Linked DNA regions of Homo sapiens: region 1 is linked to region 2. Evidence: fine-mapped expression QTL. A gene starts in region 2. The other region holds a variant in brackets. All regions are shown on one strand. Distances are between the middles of the regions.

Evidence for each region. PIP is the estimated chance that this variant, and not a neighbour inherited with it, causes the effect. A credible set is the group of variants that fine-mapping cannot tell apart.
Region 1: its variant is the best candidate, but not a certain one, in a credible set for the expression of PCGF5 in whole blood (INTERVAL, PIP 0.67).

Annotation. Positions count from the first base shown.
Region 1 is chr10:91,255,956-91,260,955 of GRCh38, reverse strand. All of the region lies in intron 6 of PCGF5 (polycomb group ring finger 5), which reads right to left. Among named protein-coding and RNA genes, the nearest start is that of PCGF5, 38 kb to the right of the region's middle. The variant T/G (reference allele first, on the strand shown) is at 2,668.
Region 2 is chr10:91,217,649-91,223,121 of GRCh38, reverse strand. PCGF5 (polycomb group ring finger 5) reads right to left here and starts at 2,459. Exons shown (of 10, transcript NM_032373.5): 1 at 2,286-2,459; 2 at 139-433. The coding sequence starts at 250. RefSeq lists silencers at 1,836-2,130, 1,820-2,279, 2,350-2,659 and an enhancer at 2,850-2,919.

The DNA.
Region 1 (5,000 bases), 38 kb before region 2:
TGCTTTAAGTTTTAGGGTACATGTGCACAACGTGCAGGTTTGTTACATATGTATACATGTGCCATGTTGGTGTGCTGCACCCATTAACTGGTCATTTAGCATTAGGTATATCTCCTACTGCTATCCCTCCCCCCTCCCCCACCCCACAACAGTCCCCAGAGTGTGATGTTCCCCTTCCTGTGTCCATGTGTTCTCATTGTTCAATTCCCACCTATGAGTGAGAACATGCGGTGTTTGGTTTTTTGTCCTTGTGATAGTTTGCTGAGAATGATGGTTTCCAGCTTCATCCATGTCCCTACAAAGGACACGAACACATCATTTTTTATGGCTGCATAGTATTCCATGGTGTATATGTGCCACATTTTCTTAATCCAGTTTATCGTTGTTGGACATTTGGGTTGGTTCCAAGTCTTTGCTATTGTGAATAGTGCCACAATAAACATATGTGTGCATGTGTCTTTATAGCAGCATGATTTATAATCCTTTGGGTATATACCCAGTAATGGGATGGCTGGGTCAAATGGTATTTCTAGTTCTAGATCCCTGAAGAATCGCCACATCGACTTCCACAATGGTTGAACTAGTTTACAGTCCCACCAACGGTGTAAAAGTGTTCCTATTTCTTCACATCCTCTCCAGCACCTGTTGTTTCCTGACTTTTTAATGATGGCCATTCTAACTGGTGTGAGATGGTATCTCATTGTGGTTTGATTTGCATTTCTCTGATGGCCAGTGACGATGAGCATTTTTTCACATGTCTGTTGGCTGCATATATGTCTTCTTTTGAGAAGTGTCTGTTCATACCCTTTGCCCACTTTTTGATGGGGTTGTTTTTTCTTGTAAATTTGTTGGAGTTCATTGCAGATTCTGGATATTAGCCCTTTGTCAGATGAGTAGGTTGCAAAAATTTTCTCCCATTCTGTAGGTTGCCTGTTCACTCTGATGGTAGTTTCTTTTGCTGTGCAGAAGCTCTTTAGTTTAATTAGATCCCATTTGTCAATTTTGGCTTTTGTTACCATTGCTTTTGGTGTTTTAGACATGAAGTCCTTGCCCATGCCTATGTCCTGAATGGTATTGCCTAGGTTTTCTTCTAGGGTTTTTATGGTTTTAGGTCTAACATGTAAGTCTTTAATCCATCTTAATTTTTGTATAAGGTGTAAGGAAGGGATCCAGTTTCAGCTTTCTACATATGGCTAGCCAGTTTTCCCAGCACCATTTATTAAATAGGAAATCCTTTCCCCATTTCTTGTTTTTGTCAGGTTTGTCAAAGATCAGATAGTTGTAGATATGCGGCATTATTTCTGAGGGCTCTGTTCTGTTCCATTGGTCTATATCCCTGTTTTGGTACCAGTACCATGCTGTTTTGGTTACTGTAGCCTTGTAGAATACTTTGAAGTCAGGTAGCGTGATGCCTCCAGCTTTGTTCTTTTGGCTTAGGATTGACTTGGCAATGCGGGCTCTTTTTTGGTTCCATATGAACTTTAGTTTTTTCCAATTCTGTGAAGATTATAAAGTATAACTTCTGAAACATGAGGGACATTTTCTAAAACATGGTATCACAGCTTTTAAATAATTTCAGAAAGAGCAGTGATGTCAAATGGGACCCTGAGGAGCCATAGGGTTCAACAGAGAGAGGCTGGTTAGGCCACAGCATGCCCCAGAAATTAGAAGTTGCATAGTGTGGACCTTGTGTTGGGGAGAATAGTGTCTGATAGGCTGTGCCAGTACTTTACTGGAAGAACAAACTTCTCTGTGCCTGATGTGTCTCATTTGTAAAATGTGCAGAGCAGTACTAATTCACTCTTTAAGCTTGACTATCACTAAAATATAAGAACCAATCCAGAAGGGACACCCAAGCTGAAAATGAAGTAAAATGAGGTTGTAGACATAATAAACACGAACCAATATGTGAAACAAAATTACATTCCACAACCTCAAAAGTTATCAGAATACTAAAACACACAAAACAACAATAGAATCTTTTAAAGATATTACTCCTATTTGTATGTATAGGAAATGAGGTCAGCATCACTAAGTCACAACTGTTCAGTCAATGTTTATTTCCTAGCAAATGTTTTCCTAGCAAAACATATTTCCTGGCAAAGACCAACAGAAATAAATTAACAAATAACAACCTGGTCACAATACAGATGATAAAATATCCATTAAAAGAAAACAGAAGTTAAAAGTTACATCTAAATCAACACATATTCTACCCATTTCAAATGTGAAGACGGATATTCTAGACAGCATGAAAACAAAGGGATAAATGTACACGTCTATCTTCTCTGTTATCTGTTCACCTTCTCAACTATCCCAAGGTTTCCTGTCAATTTTCTTCTTGCCCCAAACAGCTTACAAAGAATCATTAGCACATTTTTACAAGCCCCAGTTAAGTCAGAGAAGAATATAAGGGTGTAGGTTGATCATCCCCAGTCTGAAATCTGAAATGTCCCAAAATCTGAAACTGAGGGCTGACATGACACTCATTCATTTCAGATTTGGGAGGTTCAACTGTAAGTATATACAATGCCAATATTCCAAAACCCAAAAAACTTCTGGTCCCAACCATTTTGGATAAGGGATACTCAACCTGTACTGGAAGACTCTTAATTTGTGTATTTTTCATCTGTCAAGAAATTAGGAAGAATCTCCAGAAATGATGTT[T/G]GTATCACTACTTACAATCTTTCACAGATTAATTATAGTTTTTATACTATTCGCAAAGTTGTACAACCATTACTATGATCTAATTCCAAAACATTTTCATCATCCTCAAAAGTAACCCAAATCTATTCACAGTCACTCCGCAACCTTCCCTCCTCCCATCCCCTGACAACCCTAATCTACTTTGTCTTTATCCTTGTCTGGATATTTCGTATAAATGGAATCACATAATATGTGACCTTTTGTGTCTGGCTTCTTGCACTTAGCATAAAGTTTTCAAGATTCATCTATTTTGTAGCATGTATCAGTACTTCATTGCAGTTTATGACTGAATAGTATCACATTTCCTTTCATTCTGCTTTTCCATTCATCAGCTGATAGACATTTGGGTTGTTTTCACTTTCTGGCTATTACAAATAATGCTATTATGAATATACATATACAAGATTTTGTGTGAACATGTTTTCAATTCTTTTATACAGTAGTCCCTCCTTATCTGCAGTTTCACTTTCCTTGATTTCAGTTACCCAGTCAATATATCACTGTCCAAAAATACAAAATGGAAAATTCTAGAAATAAACAATTCATAAGTTTTAAGCTGCATACAATTCTGCATAGCATGTTAAAATCTTGCACCATCCTACTCCGTCCTGCCCAGGTTGTGAATCCTCCCTTTGTCCAGCATATTCATGCTGTATAGGCCACCTGTCCATTAGTGACTTAGCTATCTCAGTTATCAAATTAAAAAAACCAGTATATACAGGATTATTTGGTACTATCTGTGGTTGCAACATCCCCTGGGGGTCTTGGAACATATGCTCCACAGATAAGGGGGGGACTACTGGATATGATCACATACTTAGAAGTGGAATTACCACGTCAACTCTTTGAGGAACTGCTAAAGTGTTTTCCACAGTAGCTGCACTTTCACCTTCCCACTAGCAACGTATAAGGTTTCAATTTGTCCACATTCTCTAACATTTATTATTTTCCTTAAAAAAAATTTCTGGCCATCCTAGTAGGTATAAAATGATATCTCATTGTGGTTTTGATTTGCAGAGCCCCAGTGACTAGTGATATTTAGCAACTTTTCCTGTGCTTATTGGTCATTTTTATAACTTCTTTAGAGGAATGTTTATTCAAGCCTTTTGCCTTTTTCCAAATTGGGCCATCTTTTTATTGTTGATTTATAAGAGTTCTTCATATACCTGTACATTAAAGGCTTATCAGACATGATTTGCAAATATTTTTTCCCGTTCTGTAACTTTTTTCACTTTAAGTGTCCTTTGATACACAAGAGTTTTACATTTTAATGAAGTTTTACATTTACAATTTATCTATTTCTTTTCTTTTGTTGCTTGTGCTTTTGGTGTCATTTCTAAGAATCCACTGCCAAATCCAAGGTCATGGGAATATCTTAATTTCTCCTTCCTTTTGGAAGGCTATAGATTTTTGATGAATATAGACTTAACTAGTTGACAGTTTTCTTTCTTTGAGCACTCTGCATATATTATCCTATTGCCTTCTATCCTCCACAGCTTTTGGTGAGAAATCAGCTACTAACCCTACTGGGGGTCCTTTGTGCATGAGTCACTTTTATATTGTTGCTTTCAAGATTCTCTCTTTGTCTTTGAATAGTTTGATTATGATGTGCCTAGGTATGAATTTCTTTGAATTTATCATACCTGAAGATTGTTAAGCTTCTCAAATGTTTAATATTTTTCATCAAATTTGGTTGGTTTTTAGGGGCCATTATTTCTTCAAATATACTTTCTGTCCTTTTTTCTCCATTTCCTCTCCTTCTGGAACTTCCATTATGTGTATGCTGGTAAGCTTGATGGTGTCTACAGCTCTCTGAGGACCTGTTCATTTTTCTTCATTCTATTTTTCTGTTTCTCAGACTGAATAATCTCAATTCATTTAACTTCAATTTTACAGGTTCTTTTTCTTTGGCTCAAGTCTGCTGTTGAGCCTCACCAGTAAAATTTTCATTTCTGTTGCTATACTTTTCAACTCCAGAATATTAAAAGACATTTAATATTCTGTATTTGGTGAGATCATTCTTGTATTTTCATATAGTGCCCAGACCATGGTTTTAGTTCTTTGTGCATATTTAAATAGATAATTTCAAATCTATGCCTAATAAGTACAATGTCTGGGCTTCCTCAGCGACAGTTTCTATTGACTGCTTCTTTTCCTGTGTATGGGTCAAACAATCAGCTCTCTGTAACTGCAGTCCTGCATTTGTGAATTCAAGCAATCACAGATCAAAAATATTTTTAAAAACAATAAAAATAACAATAATAAAAATAATATAGTATTAACAACTACTTACA
Region 2 (5,473 bases):
AATTCAAAGTTAAAATAATTATTAGAATACTCATTTCTTAAAAGTTACAACATAGATAAAAACAAAACATGGCAATTTTAAAAGAACAAAATGTACATATAAACTTTGATAGGTATAATAACCTAAAAGAATACTTACATGTATGGAGGCATTCCGTCACTGTTGTTGGCTTGATCAGATACCCTTTACAGATATAGCAGGTAATGTAAGGATTAAAATCTTTCACCAAGTGTTTCCTTTGGGTAGCCATTCGTGGCTAGTGAAGACTGGCTTTAGTAGTCTGGGCAAAGAGGGGTCCTAAGTAGATGAAAGTCTGATCCCAGGAGCTGGTGTGTCGTTCCCAGTAGGATGTCCTGAGGCATGAGAACTAGCATCCAGATTTATCATGAGATCGTTGATCATCACTCCTTTTGGTGGTTCCGCTTTCCCATGTCTGTTTCCAAAATCATTTCAAAAAGATGAGAGAAAAAAGCGTCAAATTCCTCATAATGTATTAATGTCATTCTATTAACAGCAAGTGTTACATGTTCCCAATTGGGTGAATAGGTGAATAGAACATATCCTTCATTGTATCATTAACTTGCAAATCTGCTATAATTCAGAATAATGACAAATTCATCCAGTCCTGGAACCTCAACTACCACCTCTATACTAATGACACCCAAAGCTATTAACTACAGTTTGATATCTTTACCTCTTCACTAATGCATTTTAACTATCTGCTTGACTGCTCTATTAGGAGTCCCTGCCAATACAAGTTAAAAGATTAAAAACTTAAGTAATTATCCTCCCTATCAAAATGTTCCCCATTTCCATTTTTAACCCTTCATCCAGTTACGAGTCAAACCAAGTTGATATCCTCTGCTATTCCATGCCCGGCTGCTCTACTTGTATATCACCTCTCCACCTGCAGTCCATCTTATATTCTGCTACGAGGCACATTTTATTTTGTGACACTTGGTTGGGTCTTCTTATCAACGAATGTCAGTGTCTTCTCTTTACAAACAGAAAAATGTTTCCCATTCTGTCACATAAGACCTTCTACAGGTTAACCTTAATATACCCTTCAACAACTTTCTTCAACCTGAAGGGATCACTCCTCTCCCACCGTCTCCTCTGCAGGTTCTAAGCACTCTATCCAACACGCCCTTTCTCTCCTCTGTCTGCATGCCACCTATCCTTCAAGCCCTTCTCCAATGCTATTCTCAGTGCAATCTTTCCCTAGTTTTTAATGCTTACTTCTTTCCTATTACATTTGCCTTTTATTTTGATTTATAGTTACGTTCATTCTTTACCTTCTTTGTTAGACCAAAAACTCTTCAATAGAAACTGGTCATATTTAGTAGATATATAACCTGGATAATGCTACTTTCCTGTCTCAGGTTTTTTTTTTTTTTTAACTGTAAAATATGTATCCTCTCAGAAAACACAACATGAAAGGTGTTGATTTTCCTAAGTGCATTCTATAAACAGGAACTTTCCCCCATCTTAGCTGTTAACTCATTGGTAAATATAAAGCAACCGGAAAGGTAAAAGGCATTCCATCAACACATACCCACTGCGAATGTGCAGGGAATAGGCTCTACGTGTAATCATCCTATCCTCTTGGGAAACCGTATTCGTGCGTGTAACAGAAAGCAAGCATAATTAAAAGACAGGGAATCAGGGTTCTGGCCCTTACCCCTGTATGACCTTCAGCAAACCGTTTCATATCTGAGCCTGGGTCTCGGCTTCCTCCTCTATAAGTTGGGATTAACTGCCTTGCCTTTCCCACAGGTTTGCCATGAAACTCCAAAGTAAGAGAAAGTCCTCTGGAAGAGGAAATGCACGGTCCCGACCTGGGGTGGTACTAAGATCCTAAGGCACAGAGCCCTGTGACCAAGACAGTTAAGGGAAGCAAGAACTTGCAATGACGGGGCGGGGGCAAGGGGGAACTTTTCTGCGTTCTCCGGCAGGACCCAGCGGTACAGCCCTGTGGGGTCCCAGCACAGCCGCGCCCGCCCGGCAGGTGCGCGGGCCCAGGCCCCGCGGGCGCGCTGCTCAGGCCGGGGAGAGCGAGCAGCCTTTCCCGGGGCCGGCGTCCGCAGCCGGCCGCTCTCCCCGCCGAGGTAGGCACAGCTCCGAAGCCCCCGCCCGGGTCGGTAGCCCCCTGCACCCGAAGGGCCCTCCCGGCTCCAGGCTGGGCCGGCCAGGGCAGGTGTCTGGAGGTGTCGCTCTCGCCTGAGGCGCAAACTTGGGTGAGGAGTCTGGCGTCCCTGCAGCTCCCCAGCCCGCCCGGTACCTACCCAGCGGCCGCCACCGCCGCCGCTCCTCGCCCGCCAGCGCGCCGGCCTCAGAGTGAAGGAAAGTGAAACAGAAACAGCACCCGCCGCGGCCTGGCCGGTCCCCGCGCCCCGTCTGCTCTCCCCCTGCAGGCGGGAGCGCGCCGGCTCTGTGGGGCCACTCGGCTCAGGCCCGACAGGGCGCGGCGGGCCTCGGGGCCCAGGTCCGGTGCCGCCTCCAAGGGCAACTCCACCCACTTCCAACCGGCGGCACCGCCCGCCCCGCCGCCCGGCCACGCCCCCGCCGCCCGGCCACGCCCACCACCACGCCCGGAGGCCGCGCCTGCCGCCTGCGCTGCTCGCAGGTGCAGCTGCCGCCCTGGCTCCCTGTGCTACACGTAGCTCTGGCCAAATATTATCTCGGTTCTTCTTATCCTCACCGTCCACCCCTTCGGTTGTTTACATCATAACAATGACTGGCATATTTTCCCTGGAGGGTTTAAAAGCAACGGTCAGTGATGAGACTGACGCACCCTGAGAATTTGTCTCTTCAGCTGCGTCTTCCCCAAGTCTGTCCCACCTGCGCCGAAGTGGGGACAAAGCCATCCCTTGATTTGCACCTTATCTGAAAATGACTGACAAACTTGTTACTGTAGTGTGGGTCCAGAGATCATGGTCGTTGACAACTATAAGCAAACGGGAACGTTGTGGAGGTTGAGGGTGGGGGGAGGGTGAGTGGTAAAGAAGCATTACTGTTTGCAACGTTCAAAACAAACAAAAACCCAGTACTCTTTCTAGTGGACTTTGAGATCTACAAGAGACCATTCACTGCAAAAACCTTCATTCAAAAATGTGTATTCTAGAAGCCAGAGCAGTGATGGCTTAAGAAAATGACAATAATAGAGGGTAGGGGAGACTGTCAATGCAAAATATTTGCTTTTTCTCCAACTGATAGGCGTTAACTTCTTACTAAAGTGATAGATGACTCTAAGTGGCAAACCAACAAACTTAACAACCGCTAGTCCAGCAGCCATACAAGTGTTCAAAGATCCATTTCAAATTTAAAATGCATCAAGCAGTAGACCAAGGCAGCTTTTTAAACTATCCATTTTATAATCAAACTTTGACATGTTTAAAAATTGCCATTTCTAATATCACAGCAGGAGCAATACATTTTCTGAAACAGCTTTAAATGACCACATTCGTATAGTCCTTTAAAGAACCATTTTCCAAAATCATACATGCCAATGTCCAAGCTGGGATCAACTTCATAAGTCGCAGCAATCACAATGAGTAAGAGAAAACAAGTGAGGTCAAATGACTTCATGGCAGTAGGATTACTCTTTATGCTTCATATCTTTCATTTCAGAGACTAAACAGAACAGTATGTGAAAAATCACACTACTTCTAGTGTGTTTAAAATATGCATTGGAGGATATTACTGTATATATACCACAATATATAAAAAAGACTTGGTATGTTCCTATTTTGTGTCTGAAACTATTTTAAATATGTTTTAAAAGAATAACAGTGGAGTCCAGGGGGCTTAAATGTGATTGGTGACCTATCACAAGTGCGGTTAATCAGTATTCCTGAAGGAAACGAGCTTGAAGGCGGGTTTTAGGATGACATATGTTAGCAATGAAGGAAGGGGTCACAAACATGTGATACAGCAGTACCTGAGGATGAATGTGGAGGTGGGGTTGCCAGAATGGACTTGGGATGAGGGAGAACTACAACTTTTATAAGGCAATCTGTGCTTTGTGTCTGGAGAGGCAGCAATAGTTTGCAGTTAAGTGTTCTGTGGTTTCGCCTCTGCCTTCTTCAGCAACCATTCCATCTCTCCCACCCCAATTTAAAAAAATGCACACATACACAAAATAAAAACAAGTTTAAAAACTCAAACATTTGTCTGGTTAAAAAAATAATAATAGGCCTGGCACGGTGGCTCATGCCTGTAATCCTAGCACTTCTGGAGGCCGAGGTGGGCGGATCATGAGGTCAGGAGTTTGAGACCAGCCTGGCCAATATGGCGAAACCCCATCTCTACTAAAACAAAAATCAGCCGGGCATGGTGACATGCGCCTGTAGTCCCAGCTACTCAGGAGGCAGAGGCAGGAGAATCGCTTGAACCTAGGAGGTGGAAGTTGCAGTGAGCCGAGATCGCACCACTGCATTCTAGCCTGGGAGACAGAGCAAGGCTCTGTCTCAATAATAATAATAAAATAAGAATAATAACAAAAGTAATGGTAAGAGGGAGTGTTGTGAAATGGCAACTTTCCTGTGTGATGTGTATGCAGATTGTAAGTATTAAAACATGGGACTTTCAGCTGCTGTGCTGCCTCTCCTTCTCCCCTGGGGCTCCTTACCAGTTACTTATCCTAGTCTAGTCCCTTGGTACTGCCAGTGGGGGCAGAGGACAAATGACGGAAGCTACAACATGAGGGGGTAGCTCTGATAACAAATCTCAAGTACCAGTGGGACCCTCAAGTAAACAAAGGCCTGGAAGCAACTGGATATAGGACCAGGGGAAAAAAAAAGGCAGGATAAAGGAATCATAGCTGGGAGTCCCCTTATCAATAATGTACTTCAGCTTTCTCATTTTATAGATGTAGAAACTAAGATCCTGAGACGTGGTGAATTCATAATTACAGAGCTGATTCTGGTAGAGCCAAGACAAAAACAAAGGTGTCAGCTTCAGTTTTCTTTAATACCTCTTGAGAGTACTTCTCAAGTCCCAGAACTTAAGGGAGGTCTGGTAAGAAACAGATTAGGGCTGCGCACGGTGGCTCACGCCTGTAATCCCAGCACTTTGGGAGGCCAAGGCGGGCAGATCAACTGAGGTCAGGAGTTCAAGACCAGCCTGGCCAACATGGTGAAATCCTGTCTCTACTAAAAATACCAAAATTAGCCAGGCTTGGTGGCAGGTGCCTGTAATCCCAGCTACTAGGGAGGCTGAGGCAGGAGAATCACTTGAACTTGGGAGGTGGAGGTTGCAGTGAGCCAAGATCGCGCCATTGCACTCTAGTCTGGGGCACAAGAGCGAGACTATGTCTAAAGAAAAAACACACAGATTAACTTTTTTTGTTGTTGTTAAACAAGGAAGAAAGAAAGGGAAGAATGGATGAGGAGAGGGAGGGAAATAACTGTCTAGATGGCACTTAGGAGTGAAGTGGCCACTGGTGATTCCCTATCAAAGAAGCATAATCCCA